Homo sapiens: one gene and its partners. The protein of the gene in region 1 purifies or fractionates together with the protein of each later gene. This does not show direct contact. Each region holds a gene or a part of one and is shown in the gene's direction. Other genes may lie near its edges.

Region 1 (2,623 bases):
AGTTACATGGAGTAAGGCCTCATGGATGTCATGGTGGTCCTCCATGTTCACCAACCACCAAGAAAATTCTTCTTCAGTCCACAATTCCAGCTTGCGCTCTTTGGTGCACTTGGAGCCAGAAAGTGTCTTTTTGGCCCTGTTTTGTAGAAACCGTGCATGTACCAAAGAGAAACTTTAGAGTTTGGATGGAGCTGAAGCATTGATGGGAATTCCCTAGTGCACCCAGGAGCAGGAGGCAAGCCCAAGCCTCGGGTGGTAGCCAATTATATTTTGTGATCGTGTATGTACTTAAAACATCAGAGATGACACAGCACATGAATATAACTATTGATATGTAGGTGCATACTGAGTATTCTAAGTAGCAGATAGATACCAAAATACTGTATAATCCCAGAATTGCCTAAACTGCAGGTTTGCTAGTTCTCTGTTATACAGACCAGTAGGTAGCCTTTCCACACATTTGTGTTTTCTCTTCCATAATAAGAGAGTGCTGCGGCTGGCAGGCAAAGGTAGTTGCCTCATGCACTTTATCTTTTTGTCTTTTTCTCTTCTTCATCTTTTGGGATGCTGCTGGCTGTATCTGTCCCAAACTTCTTGTTGCATTAGAATCAGATCTGTGTATGTTTGAGGAGGTTTTATTTTAAAGACTTCAGTTTTACTCAGCTCTAGGAAGGGTCAAATACAACAACAACAACAAAAAACAGAAAACAAAAAACCCTCCCTAGGTGTTTGCTTTTGCAACATTAAAAAAAATGCCTTGGTGCTAAAAAGTATTTAATGACGCATGTTCACCACTAAAAAGCGCCACTGAATTCACAGTATTTCACTGCTAAGTGGCTGCATGTACTTTGTGTTTGGAAATCTGAAGAATTTTCCAGAAAACAAGCATCCATTACTCTCATTTCAACAGTTACTCCATCTATGCTGCAAAAATGAAGCGTGAAAGGGGGGATACTTTTCTATGGAATACTCAGTGCTTTTGATATTTATTTTAGCAAGAATAATCAGATGCCAAAAATAATTTCAGAGAAAGGTAGAAAAAATATTTCAGGTAACCTTTTCTTATTTCTTCTCCAAAAAGATTACACCCATGTAAGGTATTTTTAACACTGGGGTTTTGAAGGTGTTATCTTTTCTGGTATCCTATCACTACATGTTAAAATTGAAGGAGAAAATATTATTGAAACTAAAGTAATTGCAGGGACACATTAAACCAAAGGGGTGAACAAAAGAGGTTTAAAGTTTGTATCTAGAAATGAAAAATAAGAATCATTGGTAAGACTAGTACCGATTATTGGCAATTGGTAATTGATAATTGGTAAGAGTAGTACCAAATAATGGGCATTTTTCTTAAAATACATACCTCTACCCCAAACCCCAAATGTTAATTTAGAATCCTGAAACAGGCAAGTCAGGCTCTGACTCTTTTGTTTAAGGAAATGTAATACTGTGTCAACTAAACTGGCATTAGGTTCTTAGTGGAGTGTGTGTTTGTGTGTGTGTGTGTGTGTTTTGTGTAGAGGTATGTTTGTGATGAAAGGTTTTGCACTGTTGCATAAAGAAGTTTGATTTTGTGATTTTTAAAATGATATTCATTTGGAGACTTTTTAAGGTAATTTAAAAGATGTATAATTTCCGTGTGTTTAATGAAATCTGTTGTCGATGTACTAATCTTGGTTTACAGCATCTTGAATACTTGATTATTGAAAATTAAGAAAAAAGTTAAAAATGAATAAAGTGTGTTGGACTGAAATGAAATTGTTTCTAGAACTTTGTTGTTTGAAGGGATGAAGCAATGAGACCAATGCGATTGTCCACCCCTCCTACATCATTAACTCCTTACCTAACTGTTAACTCTACATTGAAGCAGAATGTTCTATGTGTAAAGTTTTAGGAGTATAGTTTAAAGAGCCATAGCATGTTTTTTTTTATTGAGTCTCCAAAGAGAATAATTTTAAGTAATTCATCACTTACTTATTGAAATTCAAAACAGACTTTCAGAACACAGAGCTATGTACCTTGAATGTGATTTGTTAAGTTATACTTAAATAACATATTAACCCTGAAATCTCAATGGCTTCATAACACACAGGTCTGTTTCTCATTCACTTACATATCTATTATGGCTCTGTTCCACATAGTCTTTCAGGGATCCAGGCTGACAGAGGCTCCACCATCTTGAAGTGGCACCACCTGGAACTTTCATCGTTAATATTGGTTGCTGGGGCAAAGAAAGGAAATGCCCTGAGAATGGCAAAAGAGCTTTTCTCTTTCTCAGCCTGGAAGTGCCATGTGTCTATTCTCCCATTTCATTGGCCCTAAGTAGTCTCATGGCTCTGCCTAAGAGCCTGAGGTCCTGAAAATATAGAGGAGTAAATGGTAAGAATTCAGTGGGTATAATTCTTTGCCACATGGTTGACTTTGATAGGTTAAGAATAATTTCCAAAGAAGTCCAACTCATTATTCCAAAAACTGGAATAATTTCTAAAGGCATGAATATCAAAACTTGGTCAACAAAGCACTGAAAATCTCCCTTCCTCCTGTCTCCTAGTATGCTACTGAATAGCAAACTAATCATTCATTGTTAAAGTGGCCCAGAAGCCAGTGCTCTGAGACAAGAGTA
Region 2 (3,906 bases), on another chromosome or scaffold:
GGAACATGTGTGATTAGTTGCCTTACAGAAATAAACAATTGGTAGGTTTCTTATAGCAGAAATAATTTTTTATTTTCCTCTGTGCATCTTTATAAGGCAAATATCAACAGTTGGATTACGCGGTGGCTCACGCCTGTAATCCCAGCACTTTGGGGAGCCGAGGTGAGTGAATCACTTGAGGCCAGGAGTTCAAGACTAGCCTGGCCAACATGGTGAAACCCCGTCTCTACTAAAAATAAAAAATTAGCCATGTGTGGCGGCGGGTGCCTGTAATCCCAGGTACTCGGGAGGCTGAGGCAGGAGAATCACTTGAACCTGGGAGGCGGAGGTTGCAATGAGCCAAGATTGCACCACTGCACTCCAGCCTGGATGACAGAGTGAGACCCTGCCTCAAAAAAAAAAAAAAAAAAAAAAAAAAAAAATATATATATATATATATATATATATATACACACACACACACACACACACATACATAAACAATTGAGGATTATTTTAATTTTTGAAAATTTTTAAAAATAATTTTAGCTTTTCTCTTTTTTCCCTAAATGTCTCCTTATTTAATGGAACATTTATTTTATAGTACAGTTAGTCTTAAGGTCCTGAGTCTTGTGATATAACCAGAAATTTCCCTGGCTTCTCTACTAGTATACATCATCATCCTTCATTTGTAACTTTTTGCTGTGTTTTCTCATCACACTATTCCCTCATGAAGAAGTTACGAAGGTAACATTTTAAACAATCTGCTTTCTTTCCAGGAAAGCCTTAAATAACCGCCCCCCCTCGCCCACCGCCTGCAAGAAAAGAAAGAGGTATATTTATTACTGGCCTCAGTTTTGAAAACATACAAAATTAGAATGTTATTTTAGATTTTAAAAGTACTAAATTTGGCTTTGATAATTATCCTTAGCTAGAAGTGAATTGGCTGCATACAAGTAGTAACAGCTCTTCTTTTCTACATAATTCTTCGACTTGGAAATACCATTGTTGTTTAGATTTTGCCTTTCATTTATTTACTATTTTCCTTTTTACTTTTTTTCTTGTTAAATTACCAACTTGAACAAAATTTACAGACCAGTTATAGTCTGTGTATTGTTAAAACTAATATTAGAGACATGCTTATGTGTACCTGGCCAAGATGTAGGTATATCAGAAATTCTTGCCCGGAAATATATTTTCCTGTTTGCTGAGAAGTTGATGAGCCTTCAGTTTTATAAAAGGCAAATAAACGAAAAGGCAAAACCAGCTCTCCAAGAGAATGTCAGAATAGGACTGAAGATTAGGTGATATAAATACTCTTTTGAGACGTTTACACATTACCTAGGAAACAGTCACTGACTGTATAAAAAGAGGATATAGAACTAAAAGCTATTTGGTTTGTTTTAGCTTTGAATAGGAATGATTAATTTCCTGCTGACCTTATGCACTGGAATTTTTGCTTTTGGGCTTGTCTTCATGTGTTTATAATGGTTAATATAAATTTTAGGAAATAGAATAAAAAATAAAGCAGCTCATTAAGAGCTATGGCCATGGTGAGTACTTAACATATTGGTGAGATACTGTACAAAATAAGCAGATGGCTGGATGCAATGGCTAATTCCTGTAATCCTAACACTTGGGAGGCCAAGGTAAGAGGATTGCTTGGGCCCAGGAGTTCAAGACCAGCCTGGGCAACATGGTGAGACACCATCTCTACAAAAAATTTAAAACAAAAAAATTAGCTGGACATGGTGGCACATGCCTGTAGTCCTAGCTACTCAGGAGGCTGAGTCAAGAGGATGGCTTAAGCCTCGGAGGTCGAGGCTTCAGTGAACCAGGATTGTGTCACTGCACTCCAGCCTGAACAACAGAGCAAGGCCTCAAAAAATAATAAATAATAGCACATAACAATTAACCACCTTTTGAATTGCTCTAATTTTATTTTTGAGGATAGTTAACAAATATTTAGCTTTCATTTGGCTCAGGAAGAATAAAAGACAATAAATCCTTAGGTGTAAATGAATAGAAGAGGTCAAACTTTGTGATTTATTTAAATAGTAGTAGTTACAAAAGGCCAGTTACATAACTATCTCTAAAAATATTAAATTGATTCCCAACTGTACTTATTTTTTTCTTATCTCTCAAACTATCAATAGATTCATTTAATCAATATTTAATGTGATTGAGGACACCCATTATGTGCTTAGGATTATGCTAAATATTAATACTAAGGTAAATATAAAATAGTATAGTATATGGTCCCTGCCTTCAAGAAACTTGCATTCTAGCTGGAGAGACAAAAAGATACATACTTTTTAAAAGTTAAGTAACCCGAAGGTCCATCAACAGCAGAATGGATAAAAATGAATCATCAAAAAAAAAAAAGAGTCATCCATTTGTTTAAATGAGTATAAATATGTTTTCTATACAGAATGAAAATGAACATTGTTATACAACATGTATATTTCTCACATTATGTTCAATAAAAAAAGCCAAACACAAAAATATACATACTGTATGATTCCATTTATATGAAACTCAAAAAACTATTGTATTTGAGGTTGCATATTTAGGTGGTACAATTATAAACAAAATCAAGCCAGGAATTACTATAGTTTTTAGAATAGTGATTATCTTTTTGTAAGGGATAGGGGAAGGAAAAGGGTGTTAGTAATTAGGAAGGAAAATGGAGAGGATTTCTAGATAGTAACAATTTTCTGTTTCTGGACCTAGAGGAAGTTTCATAGTTTTGTTTTTGTTTTTGTTTTTGTTTTTAAGACAGAGTCTTGCTCTGTCACCCAGGTTGGAGTATAGTGGCACCATCTTGGCTCACTGCAACCTGCGCCTCCCGAGTTCAAGCAATTCTCCTGTCTCAATCTCCTGAGTAGCTGGGATTACAGGCACCCGCCACCATGCCTGGCTAATTTTTGTATTTTTAGTAGAGATGGGGTTTCACCATATTGGTCAGGCTGGTCTTGAACTCCTGACCTCTCAGGCGACCCACCCAACTTGGCCTCCCAAAGTGCTGGGATTATAGGTGTGGCCTCCCAAAGTGCTGGGATTACAGGCGTAAACTACTGCTCCCGGCCTTTTTTATTTATTTATTTATTTTTGATACGGAGTCTTGCTCTGTCCCTCCTGGCTAATTTTTGTATTCTTAGTAGGGAAGGGTTTTCAGCATGTTAGCCAGGCTAGTCTTGAACTCCTGATCTCAAGTGATCCACCTGCCTTGGCCTCCCAAAGTGCTGGGATTACAAGCGTGAGCCACTGCACCTGGGCCATAGATCTTCACTTTGGAATAATTAAGCTTTTTACTTTGTTTTGTTTATTCTTCTGTGTGTACATTATATTTCACAATGCAAAATATTTTTTTTAAAGTAAACAACAATAAAAAGCAAGTTTTTGCATGTTAGAATGAGCCAAGGGAGTTAGAGAGAGGAGAAACCATCATGAGATAGAGTAATCCGGGGAAGAATAGAAAAAGGCAGTAAAACAAGCCATGCCTTTAAAAATGGGAGGATTAACATGAATGGAGAAAAGGAAACACGTTCTGGATGAGGGAACCTGAGTGAGCAAAGGTATCATGAGCTTGATGAGTTTGGGAGATAACTGTGAGTAGGCCAGTATGACTGAAGTAGGTGGAGAACAATGGGATTCAAAATCAGTAAATTCGATTTGGACCAGATTATAGATTTTGTTACCAGGCAGAGACTTTTAGACTCTTTCCTTTAGGGAAAAGAGAATCAGCCTAATGAAAACAGCAAAGCCCATTTCATTTTTGTGTCCAAATTAAGGGCTTAATAACATTTTTATGTTCTTTGTGAGTATGTTTTAATGTGTATATAATTGCTTGTTTTTACATGGTTTGGGATTTGTGACAAGTCAAAAAAGGAAAAAATCCTAAATGTTAAATTTTGTGTCCCAAAC
Region 3 (3,906 bases), on another chromosome or scaffold:
CTTCTTTCTCCTCTGGCTACTCGGTTATCTCGTTTCTTCCTTTCACTGCTAAATTGTTGGAAGGAACCTCCCATTCCCTCTCAGCCCACTGCAGTCTGGCTTCTGCCCTTTCCCTAAGAAACCCAAGTTACTCTCTGAAATCACTGTGACTCTTCTGTGGCCAGAGCCAGTGGACACTGCAGTCCTTTTCTCTGCTCTCTGCAGGGTTAGGTGCCATCTTTCATTCTCCTTTTGGAAAGGCATTTGCTTGAGCTTCCATGCCATGCCTTCCTTCTGGACTTCCTGTACTCCCTTGCCTGCCCCAGATCCACATCTCTGTCTGTCTGAAGCTTCAATTACCACATCAAATGCTGAGGGTCTTCCTGACTGTATACCAGTGTTTGGACTACCTTTTTAATGTCTTCGTTTGAATGTTTCACAGGAACTTCATACAGTTAAACTCATTGTCTCTCCACCCTGGCCTCAGTCCTAATCTTGTTTCTTCTATATTCATCATCTTTAGAGCCCTCAAGGGCAAAACCTGCTGGCCATCCTATACTTTCCTGTCTTTGTCCATCTCTCACATCTGTTTGGTCACCAAGTCCTAAATACTCCACCTCCTTGAGATCTTCTTTGATTTGACTCTGACTCTTCATGTCAGCCACCACTGGTTTAGTTCAGGCCCTTATCGATTCTTATTTGGATTATTGTAATAATTTCCTAACCAGGTTCCTTTTTTCCATTCTTGTTTCTGGCTGTAGTGTGCATTGCTACCAGAAAGATACTGCTATACCAAAATTCTTGATCACGTTGCTCCCAGGCTGAAATGCCTTTAGTAGCTCTCCCGTCACCCTCAAGACTTAATTTGAAGCACAGTGTTTAAGGTCTTTTGGGAATTGTCTCTTGCCTCCCTTTTCAGCCACATCTTGTAATTTCCAGTCTCAGGACAGACTCTCCAGCCAGTGGGAACCTTTTGCAGTTGCTGAAATGCCTCTTCTAGGCAAGATTTCCCTCTGCTTGGAACACCATTCCAAGACCCTTCCCTTCCATTTTTCATCTATGTAGCAAAGAGCTCTGTCTTTTCTTTTAAATATTGCCCTTATTGAAGTATAATATGCATGTGGAAAAGTGTACATATAAAAAATGTATATCTTGGTGCATGTTCATGAATTGAACACACCATGTAACCAGCACCCTGACTGGGCCTCTCTTCTCATACCCTGAACAAGTGATTTCTTGTCACACAAACAATCTCTGCCTCTAGAGCCCCCCTCCCCCCTTGCCCTTCAGGCTCTGTTGGGTCTTTCGCTCCCTGGCAGTTGTCACACTATCTGCAAATTGTATTTTCCTTGCCAGCCTGGCTCTAGACTGTTAAGTCTTCCTTGAGGACAGGGTCTCTCATCTCCCTACCCTGCATGTCATAATAGATATTTAATAAATGTTTTCTGGATGAAGTTCTGAGTTTTGGGGATAAATACTCCTTCCTCACCTTGTGGAGGAGGAACATTGCCTGACGTCTAAAAATTTGCCTCACTGGATCCTGAGGATTTGATCTTGCCCGTGGTTAATGATGGGGTTTATTTAGTTGCGTTTGGGCCAATCAGCTTAAAGGGCTCTGTAGAAATTAGCTCATTAATCCTCACAGATCAAGAGTAAGCACTTTGAGTGCGTCCACCTGCCTGTGTTGTGGAGGTAGGCAGGCAGAGGCCTGGCTCTCCTGAGGTCTTAGGACTGAGAGGTGGCCTTTCTGGCTGGATTAAAGGACCCAGAGCTCCCTGCCACAGTTCTGGCATCCGTAGACATTGTAGGGTGGAGTGGGGAAGTCCCACACTGCCCTTCAAAAGCTCTAGAGCTTTCTTTTCTTTTGTATATCAGTGATCTCTCTCTCTTGCTGTTCATGTATTTATATATAACACTCACCTTGAAGTTCTGTGGAGCCTCTTCCTGTGTAGGAATCAGGGCTGCTGGAGACGATCAGGGATGCAGGTGAAACACAGGAGCAGAATTGCAGAACAAGTGGCTTTCAAAGGTTGTTAGGATGGCAGGAGTTCTATTTTTATAACTTATAAGGGACTGACATGATAGGATGGCTGTGGTACCTGCTAAGACCATAGAACCGGGTCATTCTAATAGATGTTATAATTCCTTTACAGTGTACTTTTTGGGAAAGTTTTTTTTTCCTATTTAAATAAAATTCTCCATGTAATCATGTGAAGTCATACGTTTTCCTCTAGGATAGTTGTGTTTAGATTATACCAAAACAGCTCTTAGTTGAAGTGATTCAAGTGTTTCTTTTTTCCCTATCTGCCATCAATTGGCCAAGTTTTTGATACTAGACAAGAATTCAATATATTAATTAAAAAGTCATTTCAGACTTGGCTTAACTGAAAAGCAGAAGAGAAAAATCCTTTAGAGAATGGATTGGCATACTTTATTTCTAGAGTCGATTTAGATAAATACTTTGGAATCCGATGTGAGTAAATGATATGTTTCACATTTCTTCTCACTTGCCAAACAGTTATTTGAGAATAAACTCTGGCTTAGCTTTAAGAAACTTCTTGGACATTGAGGATTGAGATTAATTGACCTTTTAAACTGATTGTGTATTTTGATATATGGGAAAACATTTTAAGATAGAAATGGTAGAGACCTCTACATTCATATTATCCCTGACTTTATTTTCAAACTTCTTCCAGGTAAGTGGCATTTAGTATAACTCTCAGAAGCCTAGTATTGGGGGTGCTCATGTGATTCTTCCCTTAGGTAAAAAATATACATTTTATTGACATTTATGGGTTTAGGTTTCTAACTTTTAGTTACCACTGGAGCTATTTGTCAGAAAAAACTAGATGGAAAGTAGAGGTGGATGACTTTCTGCCCTGTGAATGATAGATCTTCATTCAGGGAGTATTTTGGAGCCAGTGACCTGTGACAGTTGTGAGACTTCTCATAATCATTCTGTGGATGGTTGGGGTCTTAGAAGAAGTAATGATTTTGTTTTGAACTGGTTGCATCAGTTTGAACCAGAGTTTGTACTAAGGGTATTCCAACTGCTTTATTTCCTACTCTGTTTAGTCTGGGGATTGAAAAAGGATTACATTTTGGGTAGGTTGGTGCCTATTGACCTATCCTGTGTAGCTTAGATTTTAATTTGAATCATCTGGTTCTCTTTCTTTCTCTCAGGCAATGTCACTATCTCTGTTTGTTTAATTATGGGGTGACTCAAGAAAGCAAAGGAAGAGGAGCAGCAGACGGGGTTTCCTGGGGAAGGAATGGCAGGTCATGGCTGGTTTTTATAAGTGAGTTCCTAAGTGAGAAGTGGTACAAGAATATAGAGAGAATTAGGAAATTTAATTTTAGAAGAGACCAAAGGAAAAAAAATCCATCCCAGCTGCTTTGTCTTGTAACTGAAAACTCTCTAATGGCCAAAGTTGAAGAAACTTGCCTATGGTCCCAAAGTCCTTAGAATCCCAGGCTCCAACCCTTCATGCTAAAAACTCTCAATAAATTAGGTATTGATGGGACGTATCTCAAAATAATAAGAGCTATCTATGACAGACCCACAGCCAATATCATACTGAATGGGCAAAAACTGGAAGCATTCCCTTTGAAAACTGGCACAAGACAGGGATGCACTCTCTCACCACTCCTATTCAACATAGTGTTGGAAGTTCTGGCCAGGGCAATCAGGCAGGAGAAGGAAATAAAGGGTATTCAGTTAGGAAAAGAGGAAGTCAAATTGTCCCTGTTTGCAGATGACATGACTGTGTATCTAGAAAACCCCATTGTCTCAGCCCAAAATCTCCTTAAGCTGATAGGCAACTTCAGCAAAGTCTCAGGATACAAAATCAATGTGCAAAAATCACAAGCATTCTTATACACCAATAACAGACAAACAGAGAGCCAAATCATGAGTGAACTCCATCC
Region 4 (3,906 bases), on another chromosome or scaffold:
GGATCCCCCAACCAAAGACAGCGGTCACATTTGGTGCCCCTGTCCTGATGCCAGCTCTTTCTCAAGCTCCAGTCCCACCCGCTGTGACTGCACAGACCACAGTAATGATAGTAGTCATTGCTGTCATTTATTGAGCATCTACTAGTTGTGTTCCTCACAATAACCCTAAAAAAACAGAAATTATTACCCACGTGTTTCAGACAAGGACACATACTGAGAAGAGAGTGGCCTGAGATAACACAACTAGGAATTGGCATAGCTGGGCCTTAGAGCCAGGTCTGTCAGGCTCCCCCACCTCTGCACTGCCACCGTGTACCCTTTTATGAATGGCTTTCAGGAGATAATGTCTTTAACCCAGCAGAGGAAAGCTCTGATGGTGGAATGGCAGGCACTGGCAGGGGAGCAAGATGTCTCAATGGGGGTGGACTTGATAGCTTCTTTCCTCCTATGCCTGTGGTCCTGTCTGTCATTCAGACAGATTTCCAGGGCAGAGATGCCCCTAGGCCTGAAGGCAGGGCATCGATGGAGACGATGGATTTAGAGCCTGATGGGGTACTTGGAACAAGATGGGATGGTAAATGAGATTGGACAGGCATGCGGGGGCCTTGAATGCCAAGCCAGGGAGGTGGGACACTTGTCAGTAATAGAGAGCTAAGGATGTGTGTTCGTGGGTGGCCTACTGTGGGGGTGACAGTGATCCATTAGAGGGGATGGCTGCTGAGCTGCCCGGTGGCCGTGGCCCACTGTGGCTGTCCAGACACCACCCTGTGGGTCCAAGTGGTCCACAGAGTGGTATGGGCAAGGCCATGCTGGGCTCTGAGCCTGTGCCTTGGGGTGCTCCCAGGCAAGACTGTCCCCCTCTGAGCCTCCTGTGTGCCTCCACAGGTGATAGGGCTGGGCCTCGTGGACCTGAATCTCAGCTCTGCTGTTCCTCGCTGTGTGCCCTGAGAGTCTCACCCGCTCTGAGTCTTAGTCTTATCGTCTGTAAAATGGAGCTTGGCAGTACCTTCACTTTTGAGGTGATGGTAAAGACTGCACGAGCCCTTGACTTTCAGGGAGATTGTCAGGTAGAAAGCCACACAAACCCAGCATTTCCTCTTTATTAATCCTGCCTGGAAGCCTTTGGAATCAGGACCCTTGAGAGGCAGAGATCGGGGGAGAGAAGAGGCCAAAGGGAGGCTCTGTCCCTTCTCCCTTCTGGAGTCCCAGTAAACGAAACATCACATAGCCAAACCTGATGCCAAAAGATGAGTTTTGTGCCCCAAATTGATTCTCCAAGTCTACATGAAGACTTGGAAGTCTGTTTTTTCCCTGGTACAGTCCAGACAATTAAGGGTCTGGAGGCAGAGGGGAGGACCCTAGTTTAACTCCAAGTATTTCCTTAACTTGGGGCAAGCCACTTCCTCTATCTAAACCCCAGTTTTCTCATCTCTATAATGGGGAAATAATCCCTGTCTCAAAAGGTCGTCATGAAGCTAAAATAAGATTATGGGTTTGACATGCTTAGCCCCATCCGTAGCACTCAGTAGATGCCCATTAAAAGGTAGGGAATGTTCCCCATAGGGTATCTATAAATGCTGATCATCAAAAAGTGAAGCACAGTGCCCAGCTCTCTCTCCTCCCTGTCCCTTCTCCCCCGAGCCACAGACCTGTCCTGGGAGATGAGGGTTCCACGTGTGTCTTGTTCCTGCCCCAGAGAGTGAAGACGAGTACAGCGATGACGATGACATGAGCTGGAAGGTGCGCCGGGCAGCTGCCAAGTGCATCGCAGCCTTGATCAGCTCGCGGCCTGACCTGCTGCCCGATTTCCACTGCACCCTGGCACCTGTGCTCATCCGCCGCTTCAAAGAACGCGAGGAGAACGTCAAGGCTGACGTCTTCACTGCTTACATCGTGCTGCTGCGGCAAACACAGCCCCCGAAGGGATGGCTGGAGGCCATGGAGGAACCCACCCAGACCGGCAGCAACCTCCATATGCTACGTGGACAGGTGGGCGTGCCTTCACCTCCACCCCTACCCCCGATTTGCCTACCCAGCCACTCACTGTTAGTGTCCCTGGACTTGGAAACTCAGCTGGGAGAACATCCAGCCATGGAAGGGAAGGGAAGGGGTCCCTGGGGTGGGGGGCGGGAGCCAGCCAGGCTTCTGGAGTGTAGTAGTGACAGCCAGCCTGCCTGAGTGAGCTTGAGCAAGTTGCTTGGTCTCTCTGTACCTGTAAAATGGACGCAGAAAATTTGCCTACTCTCCAAGGGTCTGTGTGCGGTCACCAAAAGCCTGGCACAGAGTGAGGGACGAGTGCTTGGGAGATATCTTGATGCCGACATCCTCCCTGGGGATGTGTCTGGCAAAGCCTCCTGGTAGTGGGCAGGTGGGTAGGTTTCTTGGGTGTTCCCTGACCTTGACTTCCCCCTCCTGCCCACAGGTGCCCCTTGTGGTCAAGGCCCTGCAGCGGCAGCTTAAAGATCGGAGCGTCAGAGCCCGCCAGGGATGCTTCAGCCTCCTCACCGAGCTGGCGGGTGTCCTCCCAGGCAGCCTGGCCGAGCATATGCCTGTGCTGGTATCAGGTAGGCTGGACTGCAACCAGGTATCTGCTGTTCTGGGCCACTTCCAGAACCCAGACCCCACCCCTGAGTTGAGCCCCCAGTTCCTGAGACAGTCTGAGACCCAATCCCAGGCTCAGTCCCTGGTCAAGAGTCTCCAGTGGCCTCCCACTACCAGCAGTGAGAACAAGGCTGGCTCCAGTGAGTTCCCTGGACATGTTTCCCTCAGCCCTGGCCACTGGTCAGGGCTGACTTCTTGGAAACTTCTGCAGAAGAGTTTAGGTGCTTCAGTCCAGCTCAGGCACTTGTAGGTACCCCAGCCTTGCTTCCAGGGAGGGCCGTGTTGCATCAGAGGCGGTGGCCTCATAACCTTTGCATTCACCCTGCAGGCATCATCTTCTCGCTGGCCGACCGCTCCAGCTCCTCCACCATCCGGATGGATGCCCTGGCCTTCTTGCAGGGGCTGCTGGGCACCGAACCAGCTGAGGCCTTCCACCCACACTTGCCTATCCTCCTGCCACCTGTGATGGCCTGTGTGGCTGACTCTTTCTACAAGATTGCAGCCGAGGCCCTGGTGGTGCTGCAGGAGCTGGTGCGGGCCCTGTGGCCGCTGCACAGGCCTCGGATGCTGGATCCTGAGCCATATGTTGGAGAGATGTCTGCTGTCACCCTGGCGCGACTTCGTGCCACTGACCTGGACCAGGAGGTGAAGGAGCGGGCCATTTCCTGCATGGGCCACCTTGTAGGCCACCTGGGTGACCGGCTTGGGGATGACCTGGAGCCCACGTTACTGCTCCTCCTGGACCGCCTGCGGAATGAGATCACCCGGCTGCCCGCCATCAAGGCGCTTACGCTGGTGGCCGTATCCCCACTACAGCTTGACCTACAGCCCATCCTGGCCGAGGCACTGCACATTCTGGCCTCATTCCTGCGGAAGAACCAGCGGGCTTTGCGACTGGCCACACTGGCAGCCCTGGACGCCCTGGCCCAGAGCCAGGGCCTCAGCCTCCCACCGTCTGCCGTGCAGGCCGTGCTGGCTGAGCTGCCTGCCCTGGTCAACGAGAGCGACATGCATGTGGCCCAGCTGGCTGTGGACTTCCTTGCCACAGTGACCCAGGCCCAGCCAGCCTCTTTGGTGGAGGTCAGTGGCCCTGTGCTCTCAGAGCTGCTGCGGCTGCTGCGTTCGCCCCTGTTGCCAGCCGGGGTTCTGGCAGCTGCTGAAGGCTTCCTGCAGGCCCTGGTAGGGACCCGTCCCCCGTGTGTGGACTATGCCAAACTCATCAGCCTGCTCACTGCGCCTGTTTATGAGCAGGCTGTGGATGGTGGGCCTGGCCTGCACAAGCAGGTGTTCCACTCATTGGCCCGG
Region 5 (3,906 bases), on another chromosome or scaffold:
GAATTTCCTTCCTTTGTAAAAAAATTTATTTTTATTTATTTATTTTTGAGAAAGAGTCTTGCTCTCTCTCACCCAGCCTGGAGTGCAATCACGGCTCACTGCAGCTTTGACCTCCTGGGCTCAAGTAATCTGTCCTTAGCCTGTCAGGTAGCTGGGACTGTGGGCGTGTGCCACCATGACCAGCTAATTTATTTACTTACTCGTTTATTTATTTATTTATTTTTTGAGATGGAGTCTCGCTCTGTTGCCCAGGTTGGAGTGCAGTGGCTCGATCTCGGCTCACTGCAAGCTCCACCTCCCGGGTTCACGCCATTCTCCTGCCTCAGCCTCCTGAGTAGCTGGGACTACAGGCACCTGCCACCACGCCCGGCTAATTTTTTTTTTTTTGTATTTTTAGTAGAGACGGGGTTTCACTGTGTTAGCCAGGATGGTCTTGATCTCCTGACCTCATGATCTGCCTGCCTCGGCCTCCCAAAGTGCTGGGATTATAGGCATGAGCCACCGCGCCCGGCCTACTTGTTTATTTTTTGTAGAGACAGGGTCTCACTATGTTGTCCAGGCTTGTCTTCAACTCCTGGGCTCAAGCTGTCCGCCTGCCTTGGCCCCCCAAAGTGTTGGGATTATAGGCATGAGCCATTGTGCCCCGCCCCTCTTCCTGTTTTAGGCTGAATAATACTGCATTGTATGTATATACCACATTTTGTTTATCCGTTCACCTGCTGATGGACACTTGCGTTGCTTCCAGCTTTTGGCTGTTGTTAATAGTGCTGCTATGAACGTAGGTGTACAGGTATCTATTCAAATCCTTGCTTTCAGTTCTTTTGGGTATATACCCAGAAATGGAATTGGCTGGATCCTATGGTAATTCTATTTTTAGAGGAACCACTGCTATATTTTTTCGTGGTAGCCGCACCATTTTACATTCCCACCAACAGTGCACACGTATTCCAGTTTCTCCACGTCTTCACCAGCATTTGTTAATTTTTTTTGTATTTTAATTTATAGTAGTTATTCTGTTGTTTGTGATGTGATATCTTGTGGTTTTGATCTGTGTTTCTCTAATCATTAGTGATGTTGAGGATCCCTTCATGTGTTTGGTGACCATGTGTTTATCTTCTTTGGAGAAATGTCTATTCAGAGACATTCAGAAAATGTCTTTGCCCATTTTTAAATTAGGTGGTTTGGTTTTTGTTGTTGCTAAGTGACAGGAGTTATTCATATATTCTGGATAGTAACCCCTTACCAGATAGATGATTTGCAAATATTTACTTCCATTCCGTGTTATATTTTTGCCTTTTCACTCTGTTGATTGTGTCCTTTGATGCACAGAAGTTTTTAAGTTTGATGTCCCGTTTGTCTATTTTTTATTTTGTTGCCTGTGCTTTTGGTGTCGTGTCCAAGAAACCATTACCAAATTCAGTGTCATGAAGCTTTTCCCTTACATTTTCTTCTAGGAGTTTTATTGTTTTAGCTTTTATGTTTCGTTCTTTGATCCTGAGTTAATTTTGGTATATAGTGTAAGGTAAGGGTCCGATTGCATTCTTTGGCATATGGATATCCAGTTTCCCTGGCACCATTTGCTGAAAATACTGTCTTTTCCCCCACTGAATGGTCTTGGGACCCTTGTCAAAGATCATTTGACCATATATGTGAGGATTTATTCTGTTCCATTGGTCTGTATGTCTGTCTTTATGCCAGCAGCATACTGTTGATTACTATGGCTTTGTAATAAATTTTGAAATCAGGAGTCTGAGACCTCCAACTTTGTTCTTCACCTTCTCTCCCTTTTTTTGTATTCATCATATAATAATCAGCAATAGCCATTTAATCAGAGTTCACTAATTAAATCTTACTCTGTCTAGAGAAATCTGCTGTATTATATCAGAAGGTACTTATTGAGCGCTGGTCCAGGTGCTGGGAATACAGAAATGAACACGGTAGCTTCTTCCTTCAGAGTCAAATTCTTAGTGGCATTGAAAATGGGGAGGGTAGACAGTAAACACAAAAGCAAATAAAATTACTTCAGTTACAAATAAGTGCTGTGAAGATAAGAGTAGCTGGGGGATAAGGAAGTAGCTTATTCTTGGGTGGTTAGGCATGGTCTCTCTGAGAAGGTGCTACTTCATTGAGACCTGCTGGTGAGAAAGGCAGCCATGCAAAGATTTGGAGGAATAGCGTTGTAAGGAGTAGCAACAGCAAAATCAAGAGGTCCCAATTTTGTGAATAATTTCACTGAGATTTGTATGTTAAACCAGATTAGATTTTCACTGAGGTATGTGTCTGTTAAGCCAGATTAGATTACCTTCTAGAATAAATCCTTTAGTTCTTCAGATTGAAATTGCCTTTGAAGTGTGATTAGAAGTTATCTCTCACATCCCGGAGATTACATTCTTGGACGGGACTTGAGCTTTCTGTGACATTGATGATGGACTCATGAGCCTGATTGTTGCCCAATTGTCTAGGTAGTGGATGTTGAACTCCATCGCCATTCTCTCGGAGAAGACTGTATCTATCCTCAGTCCTCGGAGTCTGACATCTCTGATGCCCCTCCATCTTTGCCTTTGACCATTCCAGCCCCAGTGAAAGCTTCTTCACCAATAAAGCAGTCACATGAGCCAGTACCCGATACCTCTGTGGAGAAAGGTAATACAGCAGTTTTCCTTGCATAGCGTTGTTCTGAGGCATTCCTTTCCCATTTGCTGCTTTCAGAGACCTATAGTATATGGAAAATAACTTTGCTATAAGTGGACATGCTGCCTCTACTACACAGTTCTGTTATGAAAGCCAAATTTCCACTCTTGTCAAAAATATTTTTCCGGCCGGGAGCTGTGGTTCACACCTGTAATCCCAGCACTTTGGGAGGCCAAGGCGGGTGGATCATGAGGTCAGGAGATTAAGACCATCCTGACTAACACGGTGAAACCCCGTCTCTACTAAAAATACAAAAATTTAGCTGGGTGTGATGGTGGGTGCCTGTAGTCCCAGCTACTCGGGAGGCTGAGGCAGGAGAATGGCTCGAACCCGGGAGGTGGAGCTTGCAGTGAGCTGAGATGGTACCACTGCACTCCAGCCTGGACAACAGAGCGAGACTCCATCTCAAAAAAAAAAAAAAAAATTTCCATGAAGTTTTACTGACATATTATAAAATGTAAAAATAGCTAAAAAACATAAGATTTTTAAATTTATTTTTATTTTATTTTATTTTGAGATGGAGTCTTGCTCTGTTGCCCAGGCTGGAGTGCAGTGGCATGATCTCGCCTCACTGCAACCTCCACCTCCTGGGTTCAAGCAATTCTCCTGCCTCAGCCTCCCTGTTAGCTAGGATTACAGGCGTCCACCACCGCTCTCGGCTAATTTTTGTATTTTTAGTAGAGATGGGTTTTCACCATGTTGGCCAGGCTGGTCTCGAACTCATGACCTCAGGTGATCCACCCACCTTGGCCTCCCAAAGTGCTGGGATTACAGGCATGACCCACCACGCCTGGCCTAAAACAGATTTTTATCACTTGATAATTCCTTATAATGTATTACAGGAAGACTTTATGGTTCAGCTTCTGATTGTGCGAGCAAGAAACTTGGATATTAAATACCTGGTTTTACTTAAGAAAAGATTCATCACCAACAATGTATTTTGACCATGCCATTTTTAAATTTAACAAATATATGTGTATAAATACATATTTTAATGTTCCCATATATAAGCATAAAAGATATAAAATTGATCTTAAATGTTTTATTTCTAAGCCTATATTTTAATGTGGTTAGTATTATAGTTCTTTTATAAAATCTCAACTTTATTCCTCTTTAGATTTCAATTGCATCTTTTTTATGGGCATTTAATAAGATACAAGAGGGGCCGGGCACGGTGGCTCATGCCTGTAATTCCCAGCCTTTTGGGAGGCTGAA

Evidence for each region.
Region 2: the proteins of SLCO5A1 (region 1) and GOLPH3L purify together in Homo sapiens (affinity purification with mass spectrometry; one large-scale study listed by BioGRID and IntAct). This does not show direct contact.
Region 3: the proteins of SLCO5A1 (region 1) and STK39 purify together in Homo sapiens (affinity purification with mass spectrometry; one large-scale study listed by BioGRID and IntAct). This does not show direct contact.
Region 4: the proteins of SLCO5A1 (region 1) and CAND2 purify together in Homo sapiens (affinity purification with mass spectrometry; one large-scale study listed by BioGRID and IntAct). This does not show direct contact.
Region 5: the proteins of SLCO5A1 (region 1) and YEATS2 purify together in Homo sapiens (affinity purification with mass spectrometry; one large-scale study listed by BioGRID and IntAct). This does not show direct contact.

The regions. Positions count from the first base shown.
Region 1 is NC_000008.11:69,666,176-69,668,798, reverse strand, and holds the end of SLCO5A1 (solute carrier organic anion transporter family member 5A1), read left to right. Parts: 3' UTR 1-1,753; downstream 1,754-2,623.
Region 2 is NC_000001.11:150,690,364-150,694,269, reverse strand, and holds part of GOLPH3L (Golgi phosphoprotein 3-like), read left to right. Parts: intron 1-3,906. UniProt on the Homo sapiens protein: Phosphatidylinositol-4-phosphate-binding protein that may antagonize the action of GOLPH3 which is required for the process of vesicle budding at the Golgi and anterograde transport to the plasma membrane.
Region 3 is NC_000002.12:168,237,212-168,241,117, reverse strand, and holds part of STK39 (STE20/SPS1-related proline-alanine-rich protein kinase), read left to right. Parts: intron 1-3,906. UniProt on the Homo sapiens protein: Effector serine/threonine-protein kinase component of the WNK-SPAK/OSR1 kinase cascade, which is involved in various processes, such as ion transport, response to hypertonic stress and blood pressure.
Region 4 is NC_000003.12:12,813,445-12,817,350, forward strand, and holds part of CAND2 (cullin-associated NEDD8-dissociated protein 2), read left to right. Parts: intron 1-1,696; coding exon 1,697-1,989; intron 1,990-2,422; coding exon 2,423-2,564; intron 2,565-2,929; coding exon 2,930-3,906.
Region 5 is NC_000003.12:183,749,611-183,753,516, forward strand, and holds part of YEATS2 (YEATS domain-containing protein 2), read left to right. Parts: intron 1-2,462; coding exon 2,463-2,643; intron 2,644-3,906. UniProt on the Homo sapiens protein: Chromatin reader component of the ATAC complex, a complex with histone acetyltransferase activity on histones H3 and H4. YEATS2 specifically recognizes and binds histone H3 crotonylated at 'Lys-27' (H3K27cr).